4 linked regions of the Homo sapiens genome follow. The protein of the gene in region 1 interacts with the protein of each later gene in a pairwise test. Each region holds a gene or a part of one and is shown on either strand. Other genes may lie near its edges.

What was found.
Region 2: the proteins of CCDC102B (region 1) and FAM217B interact in binary tests that used the Homo sapiens proteins (3 or more experiments, as listed by UniProt).
Region 3: the proteins of CCDC102B (region 1) and EXOC5 interact in binary tests that used the Homo sapiens proteins (3 or more experiments, as listed by UniProt).
Region 4: the proteins of CCDC102B (region 1) and ARL4D interact in binary tests that used the Homo sapiens proteins (3 or more experiments, as listed by UniProt).

The regions. Positions count from the first base shown.
Region 1 is NC_000018.10:68,801,054-68,808,079, reverse strand, and holds part of CCDC102B (coiled-coil domain-containing protein 102B), read right to left. Parts: intron 1-7,026. UniProt on the Homo sapiens protein: During interphase, forms fibers at the proximal ends of centrioles to maintain centrosome cohesion. During mitosis, dissociates from the centrosome following phosphorylation to allow centrosome separation. Contributes to CROCC/rootletin filament formation.
Region 2 is NC_000020.11:59,936,339-59,943,414, forward strand, and holds the start of FAM217B (protein FAM217B), read left to right. Parts: upstream 1-4,050; 5' UTR 4,051-4,197; intron 4,198-5,859; 5' UTR 5,860-5,971; intron 5,972-6,088; 5' UTR 6,089-6,174; intron 6,175-7,076. Other genes in the region: PPP1R3D (protein phosphatase 1 regulatory subunit 3D), read right to left, coding at 2,694-3,593.
Region 3 is NC_000014.9:57,265,880-57,272,908, forward strand, and holds the start of EXOC5 (exocyst complex component 5), read right to left. Parts: upstream 3,027-7,029; 5' UTR 2,770-3,026; coding exon 2,743-2,769; coding exon of another isoform or gene 2,629-2,742; intron 2,488-2,628; exon of another isoform or gene 2,368-2,487; intron 1-2,367. Other genes in the region: AP5M1 (AP-5 complex subunit mu-1), read left to right, coding at 3,436-3,509. UniProt on the Homo sapiens protein: Component of the exocyst complex involved in the docking of exocytic vesicles with fusion sites on the plasma membrane.
Region 4 is NC_000017.11:43,394,128-43,401,656, reverse strand, and holds ARL4D (ADP-ribosylation factor-like protein 4D), read right to left. Parts: upstream 2,665-7,529; 5' UTR 2,564-2,664; intron 2,562-2,563; exon of another isoform or gene 2,505-2,561; intron 1,997-2,504; 5' UTR 1,925-1,996; coding exon 1,319-1,924; 3' UTR 520-1,318; downstream 1-519. UniProt on the Homo sapiens protein: Small GTP-binding protein which cycles between an inactive GDP-bound and an active GTP-bound form, and the rate of cycling is regulated by guanine nucleotide exchange factors (GEF) and GTPase-activating proteins (GAP).

The sequences.
Region 1 (7,026 bases):
TATAATATGAAACTTATAGATGAGTTTGTAATCTTGAGAAGGAAAAGACGTGGAATCTTAAGAAAAAAAAGTTAGCTTTTGATTCGAAGATTAGTTGCTCAAATCCTAGTGAAACGTTCATCCCTGCTCATATTTTCTCCATGTTAGCCAAAATAAATTAGTAATTTATTCAGACATAGAGGCCACCAACTCTGCAATCATCTTTTTTTTTAAGTGTTTATATTTCTGGTTTTCATCCTTTGACATAGGAGAAGGTAGCAATAAAGAAAATAAAAAATTTAACTAGAAAGTAGAATCCTTAACACAACTGCTGATTGATCTGGGATCCGTTTTCATTTGTTTCCTTTCATTTTTGCATAGTTGTTTGTCTTAGTAAAGACAAGTAAAGGAATTGGATTAAAAATGTCAAAATAACAGGAAGTGAATACTCAGTGTTTGTATTTCTCAAAAGATCTGTCTTTCCAGTCCCTAAAACAGAAAATGGACGCCATGTGCAAGGAAAGCTGCAAAGAGTGGAAGACCAGATTAAACTCTTACATTTCTCAAAGCTTGCTTGGTTTTTATTTTGCCTCCCAATCATGTAATTATTGTCTTCAACTCTTTCCCAAGTAATTCCTGTAACGTCATATCTTAATTCTTCCTCAAAAACTCTATTTTTTCCTTGTTTTTCTTAAATATCTCATGATTTCCCAGATCTATACATTGCATTTAATTTATAAAAAAAGAGAAAAAGTACTAAGAATTGTGTGGACTCCTAAATTGAGTTTTATCATTTTTATCATTGCCTGATTTTCACACCTGTTAAATTTTCTTAAATTAGTAAATTTTCTTAAATTATAGCAAGCAGAGAATATATTGGTCCCAGTTGTTTCTAGAGGCCACCATCTTTAACATACTTCTCAGTATCAAAATAACATAAGTATGTAAATATGATAACATGAGAGCTATAGTAGAACCCAGAGAACACTGGTTCAGAAAATGTGAGGTAAATTCTCTTCCTTGATAAGGTCGTTCAAACTCATATGTGTTCCCCCTTTCAACAAGGAGATAAATACAATGCCTGAAATGTATTCTATGGTTGCTATGAAGATATTTTTGAACCGTTTATATTCTGGAGTATTAAACCTGTGCTGTCTTAAATGGTAGTCACCTATCAGATGTAGTTAGGGAACGCTTGAAATGAGGGTCGCCTGAATTGTGATGTTCGGTGAGTACTAATTAAACACAGCATGAAACGTAAAAATGTAAACTATCTCATTAATAACTTCATACTAATTACATTTTGAAGTGATATTTTTGAAAGATTGGATTAAATCAAAAATATTATTAAAATTAATTTCACATGTTCATTTTTTAACTTTTTAAATGTAGCTACTTTAAATTGCAAATGTTGCTTGAATTATATTTCTATTGGACAAAATAGCTGTAGAGCATCCAATAGACTTTAAGAGCTTCTCTTTTTCCACAGAGAATTTTACAGAAATAGAAAACTGCATTCTGATTTTTTTCAAACATGTTCAGAATGTTTTGGCAATATTGCTGTCTCTAACACCTAGAGGTTTCCTAAATACAGGAAATTAAGATAATTACTAATAATATTACTTGCAAATATATGCTTGAAAAACATATTCTACTGATAATAAAAATGCATACCAAAGTAGCCTGCTATTCAAAGGTAAGTGAATGTGACATTCTCATTCTCTTCCACATGGCCACATAATACAGAAGAGGTGATGTTGCAATAATCATACAAAAATAAAATGAATATCATTTTAAAAATTGGATATGTTTGCTGAGCATTCTTATCTAAGCTTTGAGACATCCCATTAAAATATATTTAAAGCTGTTTAGACAACATGGGAAAAAATAATTATTAATTTTAAAAATGTATGTCATTGTTAAAACAGCAGTTGTAAATAAAAACCTAAAAATAATATTAATTCATGTGTTCTTAACATTATTAATACATATAATTTTATTTTTATCCAAAATTTTGGCAAAATGATAAACACATAAAAAAATTATGGGCTTGTAATCTGCTGTATTTGAAGGCTTCTTTGTCTTGCTTTGATCACTGGCTGAAGATTGCTCTTTAATACAGTCTGTAGGACTGATCAAAATGTTACATAAGCAGAGAGAAAAGTAAATGAGATCACTGACAACACTGTAGAGTCTTGGCATGGGAATGGGTATTAACATTTATATAATGAAACCAATTATGTTAATAGGTTAGGAGAAGTTGAATATGTTTTCAGGGACAAGAAAAATTTTCATGTCCAAAGTATTTCATATATAGTGTCGTTACAACATCCTCACCTCTCAGTTCCTATTAATTCCAATAATATGACCTCACCCACTCACTGGCTGGTTATGCACCTAGATCCCATTACCATACTAGCATTTCTTTCCATATCAATGATAAGCACCTCTCTGATTACCCTTTACTATTGTCCCCATAACTCTCTTTTTTGACCTAGCTATGGCCTCCTGTCAATGGACTGTATTGTTTTTTCTCTCTTCCTCATCGGCTTCACATCCACTCTCTCCTCCCTATTCTGTGCTCCAGTTTTAACAAATTGCTCTGAGCAAGCTTGGCATTCTCTTGACCCTACTTGCTTAGAAACTCTAATGTCAGTGAATCACAGCTGTCTTCCTGCTCCATGTCTGCACCTACACTCTTGATCAGGCTTTGAGAAAACACACCCATTGCTATCTGGTCTCACTTCAGTTTCTTGACTCTGAACCTCATATGGGCTTTAATGTAGCCAAGCCAACTCTACCATAGGGAAATTAATATTTTTCCCTGATTAAATCACAAACATTCTACTGAATAATCCCATACATTAGCTATCTTCAAAATTTTCATATCTTATTCAGCTCTGCCTTATCTGTTGAGATTGCGGGGGTTTTTCTATTTCACTTACAAAAGATATGTAATTATAAGACAACTGCCATCCACTGGTTCCATCATATCTATGTGTCTAATGGATACCCATATGTTATTCTGTCTGTTTTTATAGAGAATTACTCCACGTTCTTAACACCAAACTTCCCATTTGTATGCTCTATCTAATTTCCTCTAATCCGCTCCAGGACATGGCCTCCTCAAATATACTCCTCTCCTGTTTAACTAGTTTGTACCTCTCTCTAGATTAGATTATTCCCATTAGCAAATGCACATGCTATAATACCCTCAACATAAAAAAAAAAAAAAAGATTTTGATCCCAACCCAGCAGCCATTCCATATCTTTGGCATTTTCTAAAATAAAAATTATTTTAAAGACACTTTCATTTATCTCATTTTCTCTTGAAGTCGCAGTATCATTTTCAACTCTAGTTTGCCACAAAAACAGGAAATCAGTGACTTCTACATTGCAAATCTAATGGTCAATTCCAGGCCTGAAATTCCTGTTTTACTTGGCCAACCAGAAGCCCTGTATGTGATTGTCCATTTCATCATTCCCTTTCTTGGCTTCTGAGGGCATCCTCTCTCATGGTTCTCCTCCTACTCCCTGGTAGCTGCCCCACATTCTGTCTCAGCTTCACACCTCTGACTGCAAGCGCTCCAACACTGAGACTTCAGGCTGGGGTAATTGCTCTGGGTGAAGGCATCCAGGCCTTTGACTTCAAATTCATTAATTTTCTGAAATTTCCTAACAGACATATCTCTGGCCTGAGATGTTCCTTTATCTCTGGGATCTCACGTGTCCAGCTGCCCACTTAACATCACTAAGGATATCTAATCAGCATCTCAGATTTCACATGTTCAAAAACAAACACTTGAACTCCCCTCACATCTACACCTGCTCCTCCACAGTGTTCCCTGTGTCAATAAATGCACATTTCACTCTTCTAGGTTTACAGACCAAACTTAGGGGTTACCCTTGATTCCTTTGTCTCTTCATTGCACATCATTGTTGGAAACTCCATCAGTTCTGGCAGGAAAATATGAAATACAGCCTATGCAGAATTACAAAAACTCCATCTCTAATATCTCCTTCAAACCACCCTGTCTCTTGCCTGGAATACTGTATGGTATCTGGCCTCCCCACTTCTACCTTTTCCCTACTCCAGTATGTTCTCCACAGCACAGCCGAGTGGATGCTTTGAACACTCAACTTATGTTACAATATTTCTAGGATCCCAACATTCAAATGACTTCCCATCAAACTCAGAATAAAGTGGTTGTAGTTTATGATGTTGTCATGATCTAAACATAAACCATCCCTGAACTCTTCATCAGGACCCATGATTTCCCGACCTGAGGCTCCTACAGTTGGGGTATGAAGAGCCCTTTTAAAAGTAAAATAATATTAGGTTGGTGACCATGTAATTGTGATTTTTCCCATTGAAAGTAATGGCAAAAAATGCAATTACTTTTGCACCACCCTAATATCTTGAAGCTTAAGCTGGATTTACTTCCTCTTAAAGTAGCTTCTGCCTGTGCCTCCCTGCCTCGCTCATTCCCAGCAGCTGCCGGCCATCTGGCCATTCCTTGAAGGGACATTCTTCTGACTTAAGACTTTAGCACATGTGATTTCCTTTATACTTCTCTTCTGCCAAGATTCCTCGTGGTTAAGTATCTTACATCCTTCACCCTAACAGAAGGGACATTCCCTGGTTATTTCAAGAGTGTGTAAATATTCTATTCCCTTTTAGCCTGAATGTTCTTTTTTTCTTCCAGTACTTATCATGACTTAATATATATTTATATACTATGTATGGATTCTACTGCTTTACCAGCTAGACTATATGCTTAATGTAAAGAAAGGGGTTTTACTTTTTATTCACATCTCTATTTCCATTGCTAGAACAGTGTCTGAGACATGGTAGACATTTATTACTAAATGGACAAATCTAAAACAGAGTGACTTAGAACTATTCCTTTTCTTCCAAAAGGCAAGCATTACAAGTTCCACTAAATAAGTCAGTCTTCTCTAAAGAAGGTGGCTTTTAGATATTAAACGCTTATAGGCTTTTAAAATTAATAAAGAAACAGTTTTAAGTGAGGTTAACCCCAATCACACCACTTTAATTGCTATCAGCAACTTCATTCTTCCAAGTACTTAAATAATTCACAAATACACCTATGATGATTATCTGTATATACAAAAGATGAAGATTTACATTTATTTGGCCAGAAATACTTTTGAAACAGCGTGGAAAGTGGATAGGATATTTGGGAGAACAAAGCCATGTATCCCTTTCAGAGATAAGAGGACCAAGGGGTTTCAAAAGAATCAGCAGATGGGAGGTGGAGTTTGTCTTCTGCACTATTTCTACTTCTGATATCGTTTTGGATAAAGATCTATGCTTCTCGAATATGTCATTTATATTAATTCAGATAAACATCCTGCTCAATAATATGGAAGAAACTTATAGCCACAGAGGAAACAATGACGGCCAACCATAGACAATGAATGGACCATGTGAGGTCCAGGACCAGAGCTTTGCATTCAGTACCTATGCTTAGGCCCCAGCCTTCTGTGAGAAGCCTGTATCTGAGATAGCCCTCCTAGTTCTAATCCATGAATACTGGAATTTCTCCCATTAATCTACATTATCAGGTCAAATTTATTTAGTCCTGATACCAAAAACATAAAATATAAAAACATATCAAAAACATAAAAGCCAGCAAGTAAATTCATATAGCATTAACACCTTTAGAGGGCACTTGTAGCACGACATAATTGCAACATCCATGTTTTTAATCCATGCAATCATAAATTCTATAACTTAAGTTTCATTATTACAAAAAGAATGAAGAAGCCTGGGCAGTATCAAAAATAGGATGGCAGGGACTCTACGTAGTTGCTTTGACCCAACTCATTCCTACCATTGACAATACCTGTAAAGTGATTTCCAAACAAAGATAGAACAAAGCTCACCTGAACCCTCAGACAATCCCTGAGATTATTCTAGCTCCAAATTAGGAACAGGTTATAACCAGAACCTTCTAGAATTATATGAAACACCAATGGATTATGGCACTTCCACATCTTTCTCTTTTTTCCTGTGCTACCAAATGTTATAATCCCACTGAGCACCTTATAATTTTCATGTTTTATTGTGAAATACATTTTCTTCTCATCCAGAGAAGAAACGCTTGTTCAAAACCCTTCATGTCAAAAGAAGATAGAAAATTCATGAATATAGGCTGACTAATAAGACTATTTGATCTTTTGCAGAGGTCATAAATGTAATCTTTCACCTAATGCCTTCACAATCCTAAATTCACTAAGGGAGGAAAGGAAAGATTGTATGAAAGACTCTCAAAACTATTTCCAAATGAAAATGAGTCTAAAGTTGCTACAGGTTTTTCTTCATGCAACTATTGCCTCTTTACCTGTGTTATATTTCCAAACGTTTACTGCAGCTTAGAAACATATGCTCCCGAGTCAGTGACTAAAAATCTCACTTTTATTTTTGGAAACTTTAATTCTACAAATTTGAAACAGACACTATGATAAGATATATTTATAAATTCTTCAGTGAGCATATGTTTTTTTTCTCAATATTAAGGACACCTTTTTCTTTAGCTACTAAAAAAATCCTTCTATCAAAATTTTAACATCAAATATTTTAATATATTTATGACACACAACAGCAATTCTTTTAGGAAATATCATTAAATATAAATCAACTTGGATAATATTTAAGTATATAATAATGTTAACAGTCCTTTGCAAAGCTATGACTACAATTAAATGGCCTTGAGCACAACCTCCAATACAATATCTAGTTTTCCATTTTACAATCAAGGTCTCAAGCTCACAATCTCCATTGAGCATCTACAATTAGTCAGGGCACTGAGGATGGAGCACTAGTTATACAAAATGTCTTCTATAGAATATATTCTTAGAATGCAACCTAAACCTGTACAAAAATAAAATCTCAAGGTCAGTGACCAAATCTTTGCATTTCAACTATCCTCATCTGTTTTCGTGTACGGCAAAAAGATACTCCTTCAGTAAAGCCTACTTAATGATAGTATGATTCTAAACTAGTAGGCAGTATGTTCATAA
Region 2 (7,076 bases), on another chromosome or scaffold:
TAGCATAACATTCAGAATTAAATGAAATCACATATTTAAAGCACTTAGCACTGTGGCCAAGCAAATAAGGGAAGACAAAATAAATGTAAGTTTTCTTCCCCCATGTGCAAGACTTTGTACTTAGGTGAGGGTCACGATCCGGAAGGCAGACAGACAGACACTCATTACTGCCTGCACAGTGTCATTAACTGTTGTAAGAGAAGTACATTAATGATCACATTCCCTGTATTCCCCTAGAGCTTTCTTCATACCTCATGCTGACCTGGCATATAAAATTGCATTTCCTTTTCTCAAAGACACATACAACAACTCTGCTACTGACGCTGAGGCACAATGACAAAATTTATTTTTGCCAAGGCTCTACGTTTATCAGTGTTGTAGAAAGGATAAGACTTGCATGTGAAATGATTTAGACAAGAAGTTTCTAAAGCTTGGTCTTCTGTAATTAGGCCACAAGAAAAACATACTGAAGCATAATAGAATGGCTCACAACTGTTTTTGCACATATACTTTAATACTTAGGCTTGGGTAAAATCATTTTAAATAACATATTAAAATATGTTTGGGGGGACAACCCAGCAATTGCACAGCCCACTAGAAAATTTTAACATCTAAGTAATATAACTGTTTTAGGGTCTGAAAGTTCTCCTTCAGTTGTTCCACAGCCTCTTTATCAACTAGGCAAATATATTTAAGCTTTTAAATTTCATAATGTTGGTATTTTTTAAAAGGCACGGGAGGTTCACTTAATATTAAATATATAACATTCACTTTCATAACCAAAACCTTTTTGGCAAGTGACTTTCACATAGATTATGAGATTCTCTACATGCCTTAAAATAAATCTGGCAGCTCTTAACTCATATCTAAATTCTCTGGACAACTGTCTTGCTCTCTGTTTTGGGGCCAGGGGCGTAGCAGTGAAGGCCCTAACAGGCTTGCTGACCTAATTGGACAGTTTGTTAAATAGCAGGAAATGTAACAAGGCTTCTCTCTCTCTTGCATGTTAATGTAGTGAACAGTGCTAATAGCCAGAGATTGTGCAATTTAGTCACAATATTTCAAGCCAAAATTCAGTGTTCTTATATTAAAAGATACCGAAGAAAGCTATCCTTGTTCTTTGAATTATAAAAGCACAGAGGTTGCAATGATCAGAACCAAACTGGTTAAAAGCCGAAATGCATCCTTTCAGTATTGATTTGACAGATGCCAACAAGCATTCAAAAATTTAGAGTTAATTTCTTGGTGACAGGTAGCATAAAATTGATCAGACTGGTTTCAGCTGTATCATAAGCTTCACAAATTGGAGATCTTGTCCTTCCTGGCTGTTTTTTTTTTTTTCCCACACCTTAATTCTAGCACCTGTTGTCAGACCACTGTTCAGCACCAAAAGAACTCCTCAGCCTGGAGTTCTTTGGAGTTTTAAGTGATTGCCTAACTCAGCAGGGGACAGTGGTCTTGACTTCTTGGTTGACGGTTTAAAAACATAAAAGAATTTTATATTTTAAAACTGACAAACTAGAAAATGTTAGAAACTCTATCTGAAGGCAGAAAGTATAAAGTTGGTGGGTACCTGATAAAACATGATGTATGTAAATACAGTTCAAAACAATTTAAAAGTATAAATATTTGTCAATTATTTTTCCTCCAGTGCTCTGGCTATTGCTGAAAACACCTTCTAGTTCCACCTTGTAACTGGACTCCCAAAAGATGAATGCTGACATCTTCTGATGCTTAACAAGAAATAAAAATAGTCACCTTAATCATCAAAAAGGTAATTGCAAAGGGCACTGTTGCCTGAAATTCTCTAGTCACCTGAAAACTGAAATAACTGAGGCAAGACTTCTTAAAATGCTTAGTTTCAAACTTAAACAGAATGGCCTGATAATGATCAAACATGTACAGAGAAATACATGAAATCAGAATTGTGAATGCAGAGAAATAACTGTTTTGCTAGTTTAAAAGTCTGAAGCTTTTCCCTCCTCCCCAGCTGTTAATGTAGGAGACACACAGCCTAACCAGGACAGTCTCAATGCCCAGGAATGGTTGTGTGATGACTGATAAAGCAGAAATTTCTTGCCTATTAATAGTTTCCCACTGTTAGAAGGCTACAGCCGTTGGCAATCAGATGTGGGCTCAGGTTTTCCTTATCCTGGGGCAGGAATGCCTGGAGGGACCACGATGTGGGTCACACTGTACATTCTGTTTACTGTGGGCACAAACACAGAACTTTTTTTTTTTAGCTTATTAAATCGAGAATATTCCTGAGGAGGCATCCGCTATGGGCTAAAGGTCCCAACATCACAATAATAAATAACAGCTATGTTTACAGAGACACATTCAGGACACATGCAAAAGCTTTTCCTAGCAGGAGGACTTGGGCCTTTGCAAAACAAGCTGCTTGGGCCTCCCCAGAGGGCCCACCCTCCCATGCACCTACCCCACCACCCTGCCCCAACTCATTACACAACTCGGCCTTCTGGCCACCTGAGGCTACTTTTTAGACCAAGTGACTCAGACGTTTCAAGTAGAAGACAGGATGGGCCACTGCCAGGGGACCTTGCAGCAGAAAATTAGGTCAGAGGACTTGGAGGGTGGTGAAGAACAACCAGATAGATGTGAGAGCCCAGCAGGGAAATGACAGGAGGCGCAGCTTAGGTGTGGAGGCTCCAGGTGGCCGGTCCCCGCGCGGCTCAGATGAAGTGGATCCAGCTCTCTTCGCACTCCCCGCGAGGCATGTGCAGCGCGTGGTTGCGACATGTGAGGCTGTAGTCTCGGTGGTCGTTGTTGTCCCAGTACTCGGCACCCGCCACTTGGTAGCGCACCGCGAAGTGCACGCGGGAGCCGAGCTCCAGCAGGAAGGGCGGTACTGGAAAGCCGAAGGTGAAAACGTCCTCCGTGCCCTCGGGGCCTGCGGGCCCGCGCCACCGCGCCACCGCCTCGTGGGTACTGCGCCAGCCCGAGAAAGTGTAGCGCACAGCCACCTGCTTCTCGAAGGCCACGTTGCACACGCGCACCGTACCGCTGATGCCAAGGTCCGAGCAAGTGACACGCTCCAGGCACACGAGCTGCCGCTGCAGGCGCTCGCCAAAGTCGGCGGCCTCGACGGGCGGCGGGAAATCGGGCACCAGGCAATGCAGGGTGAACTCCAGGTCCTGGCTGCTGCAGCACAGGTCCGAGTTGATTGCGAGCCGCGACAGCACGTGCAGCGGCACGGACGGGTCGTCTCCCGCGTTGAACACCTTGACCTGTGCCAGCTCCAAGCCCAGGGCGTCGGCGAAGCGCACGCGGAGCTTCTGGCTGCAGCCCGGCCGACACGCAGCGCCCGGCGCGCCCGCGGCCTTCTGGCGGCGCTCGGGGGAGCTGGGCAGTGAGCGCGCCCGCCGCAGGATGATGGGCCGCAGGCGGGGGTCGCAGCCCGACGGCGCTGGCGTTGGCGGCGGCGCGCGGCCCGGGCTCCCAGGGGGCCTACAGGCCCGCGGCTCCAGGGCCACGCCGCCGTCCAGGTCCGACAGGCAGCTGAGGCTCCGGGGGCCGAGCTTCCGGGATCCCAGGGCGCTAGGCAGGACCGCGGAGCTCGGGCCTCTGGACATGGCCCCGCCGGCCGTCGGAAGATGAGGCAGGGATGAGAGACGACCTCCCGACCCCGCGACAGCTCCCTCCGTGCTCAGAAGCCGCAGAGAGTCCACCGTATCTGCAACCTGCGGGGGACCTCTCGGGCCCGGTGCGCCCTACCCTTGGTTCGCCACCTTGCTCCTCGAGTCCTTGTCCAGGTCCTCCGCTTCTTGCGGTTAAAGAAATTGTAAGAGTGGGGAGTTTTTCTCTAGTGGAAGCTTTCAGAGGCCTCCCGGGAGCGCAGGGTAGCGCCTCTTTTTTCTTCTTGCTTCCTTGGAGGTTCTTACAAGAAGGCTGCGTTCCGGGAGCGGCCCCTCCCACTTTCCCGGTCCGCGGCGTTACTTACAAGGCTGCAACTTGACCGGGTGCAACTTCCTAGCGAGCCTCCGCCCCGCCCCTCGTGACGCCGCCTGCAGGCGGGCCCCCGCCGGCCTCAGCTCAGCCAGGGAGCTCAGCGGAGCTGCGCGCCTCCGCCTCCAGCTCCCCTGCCGCAGCGCGCCGCAGCCGGGCGTCCCCGCGCGGGCGCCGGAGAGGAAGGAAGGCTGGCAGCCTCGTCACGTGTCCGCTGCAGTCGCGAAACAGGTCTGATCAATTTCTGTTTACGTCTGCCTGGATTGCGCGCCTATCGATCATAGACTTTGTCTGCACAAACGGAGGACAAGGAAAATGCATGCTGCGTGTCCTTAGATTTCTGGGTTGTGGATGGGGGGAGCGGTGGTGCAAAAACCGGCCTTGCCAGGAGCTGGTCTCAGGCTAATTTTAAACATCGAGGCCAGCCCACACTTTGGACAGGTTCACTGCAACCTGGACCCTTGGTCAGACCGAGGGAGCCTCACTGCGTAGAGGAGCAGCGTCATGTCCACATCACCCAGAATGCTTTGCCGCACCGAATGGCCAGCAGATTCCCTTGAGGGTGGGGAGGGGAGGTGCTGCTGTTGTCTTCCTGGACTCCGCGCCAGAGAGGAAGACAGGGGAACAAGAGTTATTACCCGCTGATGACTTCTGCAGCTGCCCTTAATCAGCCTCTGGCGCTTGGGGAGCATATTTGTAGCCAGAATCTCCGACTTTTAGCTTTGTTTCCAAGCAAGCCAGAAACACCAGCAAGGCCTGGAGCTTGTTTTCTGCCTATTTAGAACCCTGCAGGCATTCGTGTCTCTCACCCGGTAGCTTTGAGCACAAAACCCCACAGCCTTTGGTGTAAAGCATACCAGGTGAAATGAAGTAGAAAAGATGCAAGTGCACTTTCCAGAGAGCAGTTTGGGGCCAGCCATTCCATTAAGAAGGTTCCTTTTTATTGTCCAGAGGGACAAAGCAGAAAGAAAACCAGACTAATGAAAGGGGGTTGATTCAAGAACATTCGTTGCATCTAAAATGAGTCAAGGCTGTTGATTGTGGTATAATTCATGAAATGTGAGAGAATGATTTTATTTATCATTGGATGTAAGCTAACTAAAAAGGCTTACATGATTAATGTGGGAAAAATACAGGAAAGTTTCAGGAAGAAAATAAAAATCTTCTATAATCATCTCTTTTATTTTACAGAGACAGGTGATACGGGAAAGAGAAGTATCCAATTTCCATTCAGTGCACTTTTAATAGGCCACTCAAAATGAGAGGGGAATAACAGCAATATGTGGTATAGGTCAACAATGCTTCATAAAGAGATGATATATAATATGTAATATGTATGAATATATGGAAAGTCTTATAATGGATTGATGTGATAGAGAAGGCCGAAAAATTGAATGGGAACGTTCCTCCTAGAGTTTAAGCTCCTTCTGAACAGGGACGTGCATAATCATTGCCATTTTTCTGGGTACTCCTGTAATTATTTGTTGCATGAATGAATGATTGGGCAATGCAATGATTGAACGCTGTAATAAGACCTGACCTTATTTAGCCTTCCAGATTTCTTCAACATATTATTTCCAAGGAAGATTATACCTGTGTGTGAACAGGGAGAGAGAGAGAGAGATGGAATCCATTCACAGTATTTATAGTAGTGTGATCCTGTGATCCTGTCTCTAATATCTACTGTAATAAGCAGAAAAGACAAAGCTGTAAGCATAAGACAATGTCTCCCTTCCCCAGTATTTCATAACCTAGAGTGCAAACCACTATATGATCACAGCCTTAATATTTCAATATTATACAAGTATTAAAAAACAAGTGAAAAACCAACCCGATACTGGTGGTAGGACCATTTGCAATCAATAGTTACTGACAGTATTCTGTTGCTTCTAGTTCCGGTGGTGAGGAGACCTTTCCAAATATAAGAGGAATAAAGAAGTCACCTCCCCAGCTGTCATCATCTTCCAGCAGATTGAGCAAGAATATTTTGAGCACTACAGGAAAGGTAATGTAAACTTAGAAGAAAAATCTGACTTAGATTTATTCTGGGATTTTTGTTTGTTTGCTTGCTTGTTTCTTGTGTACATGTTCACAGTGTTTATTACTGCATCCCTGTTTTTAGACAGTCCATCAAACCCGAGATGATGATCAGCCACGTGATTTTTTCAAGAAGAGGAATAGGGTGAATGAATCTCATCAGAAAAGCAGGTAAATAGTTTTAGTATAATTGCTTTATCTTGCAAAAGACTCATTATCTCTGTTGTCCAGATTGAATATGTGGAGTGGGGAAAAAAGTATGTCTATAGATAAGAAATATACATTTATAATTTTTTTCTAGCAGAAATGAATAGAAAAGTGGTTTAAGCATAATAGTGGATAAGGATTCCAACGGTCATAATTCTGGCAGTTGTTAGCAGAATTATAATTTTGAGTAAGTCCTTTAATCACTTTTCTATGTTAGTTTCCTTTTATATAAAAGGATAGTGACAATAATTAATTTTTATGGATGCATACTGACAGGCAGGAACAAAATGTTTTAACAGTGTTATGAATTCTGAATAATGGAGATTCCTTCATTTCTTCATTTATTCAACATTTATTGAGCACACGTTGTACTATTGGCAATGATTTAATGTCCTGCATATTTATTAATTAAAATGTAGCACGTATTCAAATAGTTGCTTAGGTTGTTTGAAACCACTGGGCAAATGAACCTCTGAAGTTTCCAGAAAGCATGTTTACCACCCATTTCTATTCATTCTATCTGACTTATATTACAGAGAAGTATTATTAATCTTAAATGCCACGTTCTTGGTAAATAAATTGAAAAGAGGATATTTTCAACTCTGATGTGAGATTCAGCATCAGAATAAATTATGCCAGAGAGAATTAGTTTCTATACTCATAATGCACACAGTATTCATTATTCCCTTTACCTGCTATTCACAAGGTAACACTAAGACCCTGTGTTTTCATTCATATGTGTTACAGGGCACCATATGATTTTATTTCTGTTCTTTAAACACAATTTTCCCAAATGTGTTTTCTGTTTGAAAACATTGTAACAAGCTTTTGATTTAAGGTACAGGTTTGTATGTGCAATACTTTTA
Region 3 (7,029 bases), on another chromosome or scaffold:
AGTTGAAACTAAGAAGGTATTCTGAGAAACTTCCAGGATATACACTATTACAATAGCCAAATCATCTATTACTAAATCATTTCGGTCAACTGAGGAAATATATTACAGTTTGATTTTGTTATATGAAGTTGTTTTCATTGAGAGTCATGGGACCAATAAGATTTTAAAAGAAGCAGAGTTAACATAATGAAATGTCATGGATTCAAAAGCTTAATTTTGTTTTCATTTAACTTCTCCTAACATGAAAAGTGAAAGCATAATTCTATTTAACAGTGCATGAAAATCAGGATGCATAAAAACCAAACATCCTTGACTACATCCTGCCTTCCGTTTTCCACAGTTCTCCAGCTGGGACTAAGAAAGGGAAGCAGGAGAAAAAGATACTTCCCGTGACTCTTACTACAACCTAGATGCTATGGCAGTAGTTACAGGAAACTGAGCAGTGACAGGATTTTTTTTCCTCCTCCCTCCAAGGCCAAGAGATCAACTTTTCACTTGGGGATGAAAACTTACTCAAGAGTAGAGTCCACTGTAGGGCTGGATTCATAGCAGTACCAGAAAAGATAAATGCACTTCTTAATTATAACTATTGAAACTTAATTGTAACTATTATGCTTTTAATTATGATGAAGCAACAAGCTACATATAGTCAAGAAAAAAAGTCACGTCAGTTTTAAGATCTATAAATACGTTTAAATTTGTCCTAAAAACCCTCTGGCCTAAGGGTAGTCTAAGGGCTACTGTCTCTATTATCACAGAATCTTACTGGCTACCATGTAACTAGAGTCACTAAATTACATTATATATATGTATGTTATATATACGTTATATATATATATGTGTATGTGTGTGTGTGTATATATATATATATATAAAACGTATATATATACTACTTAACCTAATAGCAGGACCCCAGAAAGCAAAATATATATTTCCCCACCTCCTCCCCTTCCCCGCTAGGGAGAGGGGAAAAAAAAAAATCAAACATATTTCCAAATAAGTTACTGAAATCATGTGGTCAAACATTTAAATAAAAATATACATAAGATGGTCCAAGGTACAACTGGAACTGTCAAGCAGGATTAACTCAAAGGATAATGTCTTATGAACTGTATGACAACATATATAACAGTTTTCAGTTAAGAGCTGGCTTGCCGGCAAATACCTTAATTAAAGATCTCATACAACTTCATCGTTTTCTCCCTTTTTAAGATGTGAAAAATAAAACAAGGAACCACAGCACTACTTAGTACCTAGGGACACAGTAAAAGTTCCTAGCAGGAAAAATGTCTCCCCGTTCTTGTGTCAATAAACAGATGGCACAATTTTGGAATTACAGAAATTAATGTAGCATATCTCCCAACACTTAAGTGAGAAAATACAATATCTCTGAAGTCTTTCTTGTAATTACAATCCTTCATTCACAAATTACTGTCTTATTACAACTTATTATAACAATAACATATATTACTCCTCTCAAAAAAAGCATTATCTATCCAAAAGCTGACTGATATGCAAAATATAGTAACAATAACAAATGTAAATTTCCATTTGTTATTAAAACTGTGGCATTCAAATTGTAAGCCACAAAAACTGCTGAATCTTACGCAGAAAAAGGATACCATTTTCACTTATGGAGAAGTTCCCTATTGTGGATTACAGTCTTCTCAATTATTACACTTTTGTTACTCAATGTGAAACACAAGCACACACACAAAAAAGGGGTCTTTCTTTCCTTTTTCTTATCCGTTTTCATTTCTTTCACACAAGGAGATGCTTTATACGTGTCATTGTTTTGTAGCCTAATTAGAGTTTTCCTATTCTATTATCTCAAACTTTTATCACAGCTTCTTACAACGGACTTCACGAAATTAAATTTTAAGGTTTAGATACTGTAAACGCTCGAGGAAAGACATTAGTATTCTCACTATTACATATTAAGGATTCTCTAGCTTGCAGTTAGGTGATTTTATAATACATGTAAATGCATATAATACACTTAAGGTGCATTATATACATGAAACGAAGTGTTCGTTTTATTTTATAAACTTTTTTTATTTTATAATACACGTAAATGCCTCGAGTGTATTATTATGTATTACATGAAATAAAGTGTTCACTTGAATTTTGCCTCCCTTCAGTCTATCTCTCTTCAGTCGAAAGAGATAAGTAGGCCTTTATTGTCCAAAAAAAAAAAAATTGTCCCAGCCTTTTCAAATGTCAGGTTAAACTGGCAGTCCTATGAATGCCACCTGCAACCTTACTAATGGAATAATTACTCAAAACGAGAAGCCCCCAAGAGTCCCGATCTCAAGTGGCTTCCTCCTATTATTCCCGCGAGGACCCCAGCGACAAGACTCGCCCAACCTGAGGCTCCTGGCTCTCTTTCCTCGTCCTGAGTCAGCCCTTCCCACTACTCATCCGGAGTAGACATCTTCCAACACCCGAACCTTCCAGACTTTCCCTCTTGCCCCCACAAACAAAAGCAACCCTCCTCCCTTGGGACACCCGGCTTCCCCTCTCTGCCGACCGGCCGCCCAGCCCACCTCGGCCCCAAGCACCCCTCCCCCATTTCACGCTCCGCCCGCGCTGACACGGAGCTGCCACCCCAACCCTTCTGTTTCGCACCTCTCTCCCGAGGGCTCCTCCTGGGCAGCCAGCAAACGCCCGCTCCTCGGCCCGCCCACCCAGCTGCCTGCAAACCCCGGGCCTGCCACTCCCTGTAGAGCCGCCGGGGCCCACCTCGAAGAGCTCGGCCGTGGTAGCCATCCCGGCCGGCTGAGAGGCTCGCCCCCCACTGGATGCCGTCTCCGCTTCACATGCTGCGCCTCAGAGGCGCGGCGCACAGGTCTCCGCTCGGCTCGCCAGCTCCGGCTCCGGGCCGCTGCGGGCTCCCCAGCTCCCCACAGATCCCAGGAGGGGCGGGAGAGCGGCCATGAAGCGAAGCCGCAAACGCTTGTCAGCTGCCTCCCGGCGCCGCCCGCGCTGCTCCCATTGTCACCGCCTCATACGCCGGAAGTGGAACTGCGCGCGCCAGGGAGGTTGTCGGGAGGGGCCGGCGAATAAAACGAGCGGCGAAAGAACCGAAAAAAGGCTCGACGCTACCGTGTATGAGGAACTTTGATCCTTGCGGGCCACCATTCCGGAAGTAGAATTTAGAGGAAGAAAATACCGGAGTTGCAGGGTATAGGTAAATTTCTCAAGGTTATAGGTTGGGGTTCTTAGAACTTTTTGTGGTGTGTGTTGGCCTAGAGCGACTCAGAAGCGTTAGTGACTTCACCTAAAAAAGCTAACCTCTCTGCTGAGCGCGACCGGTATGCGGCGCAGGATGAGCCTCAGGGCTTCTGTTAAGAGTCTGTCTGAGAAAGCCGGTCTGCGCTGTTCCTCGGTGGCGACCTTAATTATGAGATGAGCTAATGCTTTACTGACTTAACCATGGCGCAGCGGGCAGTGTGGCTCATAAGCCACGAACCGGGAACTCCACTTTGTGGCACCGTGAGATTCTCCAGGTAAATGCAAATCTGAATCCTCAGGGATGATGGATCAGAAGATCGATGAAGTAGCATAGTTTTGTGGTGCTTCGTGGCCCAGGTTTGCCACGAATAGCTGCGTGACCTTGGGCTAGCCAGTTAACAGACCTCTGTTTCGTCTGTTAAATGGAGATTTTAATAGTCCTACCTTACAGTGTTGTGAGAATTGAGTTGATGACTGGTACATATTATTTACGGTATATGTTTTCTATTAGTATTGTGTTTTAAAATGACCTCCGTCTGCTTAGAATTAAAATGGAGATGACTAAGGGAACGGTAGAAAATTTACTGAGCACTAAACATTTTCAGATTTTTCAACATGCATTGACAAAATCGTTCCAGAACATTTTAACTTATTCTACTGAAAAATCCATGCTAAGTTATATCAGACTTTTATTTTTTTGTTTTTATTTTTTTGAGACGGAGTCTCGCTCTGTTCCCCAGGCTAGAGTGCAGTGGTGCGATCTCCGCTCACTGCAAGCTCCGCCTCCCGGGTTCATGCCGTTCTCCTGCCTCAGCCTCCCGAGTAGCTGGGACTACAGGCACCCGCCACCACGCCCGGCTAATTTTTTGTATTTTTGGTAGAGAGGGGGTTTCACCGTGTTAGCCAGGATAGTCTTGATCTCCTGACCTCGTGATCCGCCCGCCTTGGCTCTCAAAGTGCTGGGATTACAGGCAGGAGCCACCGCGCCCCGCCCAGGCTTTTATTTTTATCTTGTTAATATGTGTCAATGGTAGAAATCATCAGTTTACAGTTCCTAATTGTTGAAGAAAATAGAAACACAAAAAAATGTATTCACTATTTCATATATTGTGTTAAGTTGATCTGGTCCCACTATTAGAATTTGCCCTGTGTAATCAAAATAGCTCTGTTAAGGGAATTGTACAGTAACTCATTGTAAAATGTTGGTGGCAATCGAGTGGGTCTATTTCACCTTTTATTCTCTGGCCATTGATAGTTCTTTTTTGTCACAATTCGTTCTTCCCTGAAGAAAGCTTATAGTGAAGTAGTACCATAGTAGAATTGAGATTGAGGCAGAAAAAAAAGATTTTAATTTTAAATGAAAATTGGTTGGCAATGGGGATATGAAAAATTCCTTCTTTGCAACCTTAACAGTTTTTGTTCCTGAGGGCATCAGAGTTGGAGTTTACCATTTCCCCCCAGGATTTCTGGCTGACACTAACCCCAACATTTGTTGTTGGACCTCAAATACAGGAGATTAATAATATTCTTTAGTACGTGGTTTTACCAGGCGCATCAGTCCGTACAAAGTATCTCTCATTTTACTTATATTCCCTTTGGTTACCTATTTCTAACTGCCGTTCCCTTCCCACTGACAGATAACTCTTAACATCTTCGATGTTACTCTTTTTCATTGTATGCATTTTTCAAATTACATAATTAAGTGTGCTTTAGACTTCACTTCCTAATGTTACATTTGTCACATTTCTCAACACTATTTTAAAGAAACATCCATGATACTTTGTGTTCATCTAAGGCAGCATGTCCAATAGAATTCTCTATGATGATGGAAAGGAGAAATGTTCTTAATCTGTACTGGCTAATACTGTAGCCACTAGCCACAAGTACCTATTGAGCTTTTGAGCTGCAGCTAGCATAACTGAGGAACTCAATTGTTAATTTTGGGTAATGTTAATTGATTTTTATTTAAGTTTAAATAGCCACATGTGGGTAGTTCTACTATGTTGGACAGTGCAAATCTAGGCCATTGTTTCTTCTTGCTCTGTAGTACTCATGGTTCACATCCTACACATTTACCTGTCCCCTTTACCTAGTGATGACCTCTCCCAAATTTGCCTCCAAAGAACACTGCCAAAGTATGCATCCTCAAATCTGTCCATGGGGCATGTCTATGCCGATTTTGACTAAAGACTGCCAAATAATCTGCTCCACAGAATGCTTTCAGCCACCTACGCACTCACTAGCAGCAAGAAGGGGTTCCCGTATCTCCATTCTTTCCTAACATGTAATTTTTGCCAATAAAGAACATCTTATTTTCGTTTGCATTTCTGTATGTAGCAATGATTGTTAGTCCTTTAAGTTTCCTCTACTGTGAATTGCCTGTACATGTCTTGTCCTTTTTTTCTTTGAAAGTTGCTTATTTTTTCCTCTGAATTTGTAGGAGTTTGTTTTGTATTCTTGGTATTAGTCCTATGTCATTTTTAGATAGTACAGATATTTTCTTTAATTTACCATTGTCAATTAACTTTATGTTGCCCTTGGTTAAACAGAAATCACTAATTTTGATGCAATCAAACTAGTTAATTGCTTTTGGGAATTTGTTGAAGTTTTTTCTCACCCATATTTCCCAAAAATATCTTCCTACATTGTCTTCTCTTTATAATTTCATCTGCTACATTTAGGTCTTTAACCCATATGTAGTCCATCTTTGGATATGATGTTAAGTAGGAATCCCATTTCGGTTTTCTCTGTAGTGTGGGTCAGTTTTTCTGACATCATCTTTTAAGCAGTATGTCATGTCTTCATTAATTTGTGAGGCTACTGGTAGTGTTAGTTATGTCCCCTCATATAAATGTTGGTCTGTCTCAGTTCTAGTACTTTGTCTTTCTTGTACCAATACAATATCTGTTGCTTTGTAGCTTATCTTAATATTTCATAGAGGTGAACTTTTTACTGCTTAAGTAAATAAGTTTCTTAAATCCTAGTTTTCAGAATGTTTTTTCACTGTGTTCAGGATATTATTTCAGAATAAAAAGTCAGATATGTTTGGATGGGCTTTTCAATACATTTATGGAGGTAGCAAGTTGTGTTCAAATAATTTAATTCTGTATCATTGAATGACTTAGTTAAATTTTATTATATTTTCAGTTTTCTAACCTCTTGGGGGAGGTGTTAGAGCTACACAGATAGGCACTGACACTTTATAAGTGTCAATAAGTGGCCAATATTTAAGATTTAAGAAGGCAAATGATGTTTTCTCTATCTAAGTACTTATTTCCTATAACAAAACTTGGTTAAGATTCTGGTTTAAAGGTTTGCTTTCCAGATAATAATAGCATCAGCTTACATCTGGCTTAGGTCGGTATCATACCCCATAGTTGTAGGCCCATTTAAGCCTTGAATCCTGTTTTAGAAAAAGCATATAATAAATTAGAAATGATAGGTTGAGTCATCCAACAAAATATTTATTGAACACATATTGGGGTGTTGTGTAAGTTCCCAGATTAACTTATCTTCACAGTCAATTGTGAAATTTTTATACTTAAGAACTTTAATTACCCTCTGGAAAACTAGATAATAAGAGATTGGACTAGAGTTTAGTCCAGAGATCTCTACTATTCATATACAGAGATTTAGAGAAATAAATGGCATTTACCTGCTATGCCATGCCATTACTGGTGTGCTACCTGATTCTTCCCCTTTCTTAATCAAGAAAATGCATCAGAATGTAGGTGATATTTACCTACACATGGGTAACTGCTTTTGGGTTTTTTGTTTGTTTGTTTGCTTGCTTGC
Region 4 (7,529 bases), on another chromosome or scaffold:
GAGGGTGTATGTCCAGCAGTCCTCTCTGCCACCAAGCACAAACAGCTACTACTTCTGCCCCTCTCGTGAGAAGAGCTACCATTCCCAGAGCTGGAAAACTCATGGCTTAGTCACCAGGGCCAGGCTGGCTCAATCCAGCCCAGGCCTCCCTAGCACCAGCCGCTGCCATCATGCCAGTGAGCCAGTCAGCAGGATTGAGTACACAGAGGTGACTTAAGGCCAGGGAGGAATTACTTTCCACTCTCACCACATCTTACAAGGAGGAAAAAAATCAAACCAACCTAAGACTGGGGAAGTGGGGAGGATGGGAACAGAATGGCTCTTTGAGGACTTACCTATATAGACTTAGGTGTCACCAAGGTCAAGAACCTAGGAGTAGCTCAGACTAGCAAAATTTGAAGTTAAATCTGCAAGGAGCAGTTGATATAAGGGACAAGTAAGACCCAGAGGATGAGGGGAGGGGTGTTAAATCAGAGAAAAAGGAAGTGACCCCACCCAAAAAACTACAGAGATCAGGCAATAGCTTGAGGGGTTTTCCACTCCCCCCTATAATTTTCACAAGCCATCCCGTAACACACAATCTAATTTTTATAAGTGCTTGCTTTGCAAATTCAGCTTCAAGATAAATCTCCCTCCCCCTGCGCCACAACCCCATATAGAAATCTTGAATTGTCTCTGGGGCAAGATAAGGAGAGGAAAATGCCCCAGACCAAGGTAAGAGCTACAGTTATCAGTCTTTAATAACTTACAGGCAAATGCTAAAAAATAGTTAATAACAATAATACAGAGGACACACACAGCTTATAAAAAGGGTCATGGATCTACAAATGTGGGGAGGGGTTCTTGGCACTTTCACAGACACAAAAATAAAAACTATGTGACTGGTATTCCTAGAAAAGCAGCCTGGGGAGACTCCCCAGTTGGGGGACAGAGGAAGGGGAGATAGTTATTTCATCCCAAACACATTCTCCAAGTCACTTCCATCCCCCCGCCCCCAAACACATCCAATTAAAAATTTTTAGCCAGAGAAGAAAAATAAGAAACAGGGTCGAGGTAGAGTCACAGTTTACATTTACGTCTCCACAGTCCTGCAGCGCCCACTTCTCCAGAGAGGATGAGAGAGATATGCAAAGACATCCCATCTCCCATCCCCACCCCAGTGTGGCACCAAAACGGGACACCCCATGCTCCTCTCTCCTTCATTGAGGTGGACAGGTCCTGCACCCCAGTCTGACTGAGAGGTCACAGGCTGGTCCCACCCTGCTGTCCAAGTGTGCAGACCCCTACTAGGTGGGAGGAAAGGGAGGGGGGGCTTGGGTCACCGTCTCTTCTTGCCACCCCGAGCTGCCTTCTTCCTCTTGAGGATCATCTCATAGAGGCGCTCAAGGCCCTGCTGCAGGCCCAGACCGTCCACAGCGCTGCAGCCTTGCACATGAGTGAGAGTGGCGGCTGCTAGCTCTCGGACTGCCAGCCTCTTCTCCACCTCAGCAGCGCTCAGTGCCCCGGGCTGGTCCTGCTTGTTGGCCAGCACCAGCACTGGCACGCCCTGGTTGTCCGAGGCCCGGCTGATTCGGTGCAACTCCACCTTGGCTTCCTCCAGCCGCTCAGCCTCCGCAGCGTCCACCACAAACACTAGACCGTCTGTCCGGCGGGTATAAGAGCGCCACAGTGGTCGCAGCTTCTCCTGCCCCCCGACGTCCCACACTTGGAAGGTGATGCCACGCGATCCCCCGAGGGGCACCCGGATCTTCTCGGTGTTGAAGCCTTTGGTGGGGACACTCTGGACAAACTCCTTGAACTTGAGGCGGTAAAGGAGGGAGGTCTTTCCAGCAGAGTCCAGCCCAATGACCACGACATGCAGGGCTTGGAAGTGGGGCAAGAAGGAGGAGGCAGTGGGCGCCATCTCAGTCAAGTGGTTCCCCATAGTGAGCTAAGGCGCCTAGTAGAGGCAGGGAGGCCTTGAAATTGAAGGTTCCAGGGAGCACAGCTGGGTTATCTGAACCAAGAAAAGGTCATGGGAGAAAAAGGAGACGTTTAATAATACACACAAGATTTGCAACTTCTTGATCCCTTCCTAAATCACCCTCCCATCCTTCATTTTTAAAATTCCTTTCCTTTTTTTTTTTTTTTTTAAGGCATAACAGAGGTGTTCCCCCACTCCCTGGGGGGGTCGTGAGGGGGGCGATGGGACCTAGAGAGACTCCCAGGTCCTGGGCCACTCAAGTGGGGGGTGAGGGCTCGATCCATGGACAGTGGGCTTCTAGAGCCTCTTCTCAGAGCTTATGGCGCCATCCCCCAGGCAAGATCCCCGAGGGACGGGGGAAGTCGACAGTGCCCCCAAACTAAGAGCTAGGGTGCAGACGCTGAGACCGGAGATTGAGTCCGGCTCCCACCCGCCCTCCGCAGCCCCAAGCCGTTGACACGGTGCCCTTCCTTACTCCGCGACCCTCGCCCCACCGCCCCGCGACACTCTCCTGCCCGCCCGCCCTCCTCCGATGGCCGACCCCAGCTCCAGCGGCCCGGCACCGGGACCGCCTCAGCACGGTCTGCAGGGTCCGTTTACCTCTCGTGAGCCGCGCTCTCCTCGAGCCTTTCCCGGTGAAACACCGCAGCCGCCCCGCGAGACCCCCGCAGACACCCACCGCGCCTCCAACCGCTGCCTCTGCAGAGCCTGCCTAGGGTTCGGCCTTAAAAACCCGCGTGTGACGTCACAAGGCGCGGGACAATCAGCGGCGGCGGGGCGGAGCGTGGAGCTACGGGCGCTGCAGCCCCCACCATACGCGGAGGGGCGTTTGCTTAATCCGTGGCTGCTCTATTTGACCTTTTCTACCACACTCTAATATTTGGAATTAAACTTGGAATTAATGCAGAATGGAGGGTGGGAGGGGCGAAAGGAACGTGCCTGGCAACGTTTGACTCGGGAGGAAAGATATGAATACCCTAATATTCTCACTACCATCGCATCCCCCTCCACCAGGCCGAGATACCACCCCACATGGACACTCCTTCGGCCAAAGGATCTACTCGGAGAGGCTGACAAGTCTTTCTCCTTTATCTTTCATAATTCAATTGTCAAACCTAAGGTGAACCTGGAGCCCCATAAAACAGCTGCTTCATAGTGCTAAGCCCATTATCTGCAATAGCCTGTTAGGGACTGTTGTCTGCCTTTTACAGATACACAAAGCCCTGAAGGGTTAAATGACCTATTTGAGGTTACACTCAACAGTATGTTTAGGCGCAGTGGATCATACCTGTAAACTCAGCACTTTGGGAGGCTGAGGCAGGCACATCACTTAAGCTCAGGAGTTCCACCAGCCTGGACAACAGGGTGAAACCCCATCAGTAATAAAAAGACAAAAATTAGCCGGGCGTGGTGGCGGGTGCCTGTAATCCCAGCTACTCGGGAGGCTGAGGCAGGAGAATCGCTTGAACCCGGGAGGCGGAGGTTGCAGTAAGCTGAGATAGCGCCACTGCATTCCAGCCTGGGCGACAGAGCAAGACTCTGTCTCAAAACAAAGCAAACAAAAAAAAAAAACCAGTGTGTTTATTGGGCTGGGCACGGTAGCTCACGCCTGTAATACCAGCATTTTGGGAGGCCGATGTGGGCGAAGCACCTGAGGTCAGGAGTTCGAGACCAGCCTGGCCAACATGGTGAAACCCCGTCTCTACTAAAAATACAAAAATTAGCTGGGTGTGGTGGCGGGCGCCTGTAATTGCAACTATTCGGGAGGCTGAGGCAGGAGAATCACTTGAACCCGGGAGGCGGAGGTTGCAGTGAGCTGAGATCACACCATTGCACTCCAGCCTGGGCAACAGAGCAAGACTCTGTCTCAAAAAAAACAAAAACAAAACAAAACAAAACAAAAAACACTGTGTTTATTGACCTCATTCATACTGTGTGCTCTGAATGAGACAGAGAGATGGTGGAGAAATAGAGGATGTCTCGGCTGTAGAATCAGGCCTCAAAGGGCTTAAGACTTAAGACTGGCAATGACAGAATGAGACAGCACATGTATTGGGTCTTTGTAAATCATGAGATAGCACTTGTAGGATTTCAGAGAAGAGAGAGAATGTGTCAACTGGAAGCTTCTGAAAAGGTTTATAGACGTTCTTTAGCCCTATCTAGGACTGGTTAGGAGGGGCACAGGAATGAGTAGGGTCTCCCCAGCCACTGCAGCCTGCTACAGTCTGGGCAGCCCTGAAAGGAAGGAGATGTCACAAAGGGCAGTGTGACCAAAAGGACAACAGCAATTAGGTGGGGGAGAGAAGAGGGCCAATCAAAGAAGAATGAAATTGTAAATTGTAACTTTATCTATTTATTTATTTATTTATTTATTTATTTATTTTTGAGACAGAGTTTTGCTCTTGTTACCCAGGCTGGTGTCCAATGGTGCGATCTCGGCTCACTGCAACCTCCACCTCCCAGGTTCAAGCAATTCTCCTGCCTCAGCCTCCCGAGTAGCTGGGATTATAGGCATGTGCCACCACGCCCGGCTAATTTTGTACTTTTAGTACAGACAGGATTTCTCCATGTTGGTCAGGCTGGTCTCGAACTCCCGATCTCAGGTGATCCGCCCGCCTCGACCTCCCAAAGTGTTGGGATTTACAGGCGTGGATTATTTTATTTATTGTGTAATTCAGTATTAATCTTTTTAAGGGCTATGTGTGAGAGGGATTGGAAAAAGGAGAAGGGAAGTCATTGCCAGACAGCACGGCCCAGCCTTTTCCTGCCCACCCTCCTCAATCAAGTGCTGATAAATAAGCTTCCCATCTGTTTGTCACCAGTGTGCTTTGCCACCTCCTTTTTCTCCCCTCCACTACAAAACCAGCCACCTGGTTTCCCCAGCAATGCAGGGAGCCTCCCCAAATCCCTAAAGACCTTAGGAAATTAGTCTAAGATTAAGACCTTAGGAAATTAGTTTGTTACACCCCAAGTTGGAGGGTGACAGGTTGCAGCAGCAGCTAACGTACAGGAGACAGACCTGAGCATGGTGAAGTTAGGAGAGGGGAAGACGGAGCAGGCCCAGCGGTTGAGAACCACTGCACTGTTGAGTGGCCACTGCATGCCAGGCTCTGGTCTAGGAACTTTGCTTACTTTTCCTTTTTTAATACACAAGTCAAGCCCATGAAGTAAGTATGGTTAGTCTAAAAAGAAGAAACTGAAGCACAGAAAGGTTAGGTAATTTGTTGAAGGTCATCCAGCTAGAAACTGGCCAAACCTGGCTTTGAACAAATGTTACAATGGCTATGAGACTGAAAACACACAAAAACTGAAAATACACAAGTTGTCTTGTTTCTTCCACAATCTTTGAAGCTTCTTTAACATGGCTCCTATAATCTGTCTTGGGACTCACATCCAAGACAGAAATTGTCACTTATCTGATAAAGGAAATGAAACTGACAATCCTACCCCACCCTTCCGTCTTTCATGTTTGCCAGAGAAGGTGTTAATGAACAAATGGGAAGGAGAAGGTGGGGCTGGGGAGGGGTAAAAAAAGGGGCCCAGCTCGTCCAGGTAGCACTAAGCTATGGGCTTACACTAATCCCTGCAGAGAACATCTGAACATTTGTACATTAAGCAATCATTTTTTTTTGAACGATACAGAAATTAGCATGGCCCCGTGCAAGGATGACTTGCAAATTCATGAAGCATTCCCTATTTTTTCAAAATTAAAATAAAAATAATTTTTTTTTTTTTTGAGACGGAGTCTCGCTGTTTTGCCCAGGGCGGACTGCAGTGGCGCTATCTCGGCTCACTGCAAGCTCCACTTCCCGGGTTCATGCCATTCTCCTGCCTCAGCCTCCCGAGTAGCTGGAACTACAGGTGCCCGCCACCGCGCCCAGCTAATTTTTAGTATTTTTAGTAGAGACGGAGTTTCACCGTGTTAGCCAAGATGGTCTCAATCTCCTGACCTCGTGATCCGCCCGCCTCGGCCTCCCAAAGTGCCGGGATTACAGGCATGAGCCACCGCGCCCGGCCTTTTTTTTTTTTTTTTAAAGACAAGGTCTCACTCTGTCACCCAGGCTGGAGTGCAGTGGCGAGACCATAGCTTACTGCAGCCTTGAACTCTTCGGTTCAAGAGATCCTCCGCCTCAGACTCCTGAGTAGCTGGGATTACAGGTGCGTGCCACCACATGTGGCTGGAGAACTACTTTAGATTGGTGGAAGAGTGTGCAGGAGAAAGTTTCAAAGCGGCGACGCTGAGCCAAGGTTTAAGTGACACTGAGTCAGATAAGCATCATTCTTCCTCAGAGCTGTCTCCTCCACCAGACTACGTGATCAAGGGCAGCAGCTGGTTCTTATCTGTAGCTCTACCATGCCCAGCACCATGCCTGGCACACATAGGCAGTCAGAAAATCTTGTGTGAATTAATGAATGCATGATGGAATAAATGTACTCAGAGGGCTCCCTGAGTAGGAGAACCAAACCTCCACCCTTAGCGTGGGAGTTTCCCAGCCTGGGGTCCTTGGGCCCTTGGGCCCTTGGGGGTTCTGTTGATACTGGGTTGGCCAGGAATTCCTACAAACCCTGCATTTCTAGGCAGTGTCTGAGTAGTATAGAACTCTCAGGCCTTTATTGGAGAGGAGGAACTTAAAGGAGAAAAACAAGGACCAAAAATGGGGATGACACTGGAGAGACAGGTTGCCCTTAGGACATGCTGGAACACCAGACTGAGATTCAGTGCGTGAGTCCCATCCTTCCATTCCTCACTAGTAGAGTGACTTGAAAAAGTAAAAAGCCACTTCCGGCCGGGCCCAGTGGCTCGCGCCTATAATGCCAACACTTTGGGTGGCTGAGGCGGATGGATCACCTGAAGTTAGGAGTTCAAGACCAGCCTGGCCAACATGTTGAAACCTCGTCTCTACTAAAAATACAAAAAAATTAGCAGGGCGTGGTGGCGCACGCCTGTAGTCCCAGCTACTCCGGAGGCTGAAGCAGGAGAATAGCTGGAACCGGGAAGGCGGAGGTTGCAGTGAGCCGAATTGCGCCACTGCACTCCAGCCTGGGCGACAGAGCGAGACTCCGTCTCAAAAAAAAGTAACTTCCCCACCTGGGAGCCTCGGTTTCCTCATCCTGTAATGAGGGGCTTTAGATGTCTCCAGGTCGTTTCCCCATAACAGCCCATGCTCTGAAGTAAGGGAGGGTAGGAGGATGGGTGGAGCTCTTCTAGGAAGTGGCTGAGAACATCCTTGTCTCTGCAGCATCTTAACCAAGTACTTGTCTTCGTGAACAAACGAGGGAAAGAGGAGTCTGCAGGAGTAGGGGGTGGGGTGGGGGAATGGACGCCACGGAGCAGTTACCAGCTCGGCAATCACGAAGGCCCATTTTTCAAATCCCAGTTCTGTTTCCTCATGAACAAAATTGAGAAAACCCAACCTATCGCTAAGTATGAGTGTGGGGCAAAAATGTGCGAAAGGGCCCCAAAGATACCCTTCTCCCCAACCAGGAACTCTTTCCCTGGCAACCACCCCAAAATCAAGGCCTAGGGTGGAGCCAGGGGCTAGAAATAAGTAGATGCTGCCCCCTG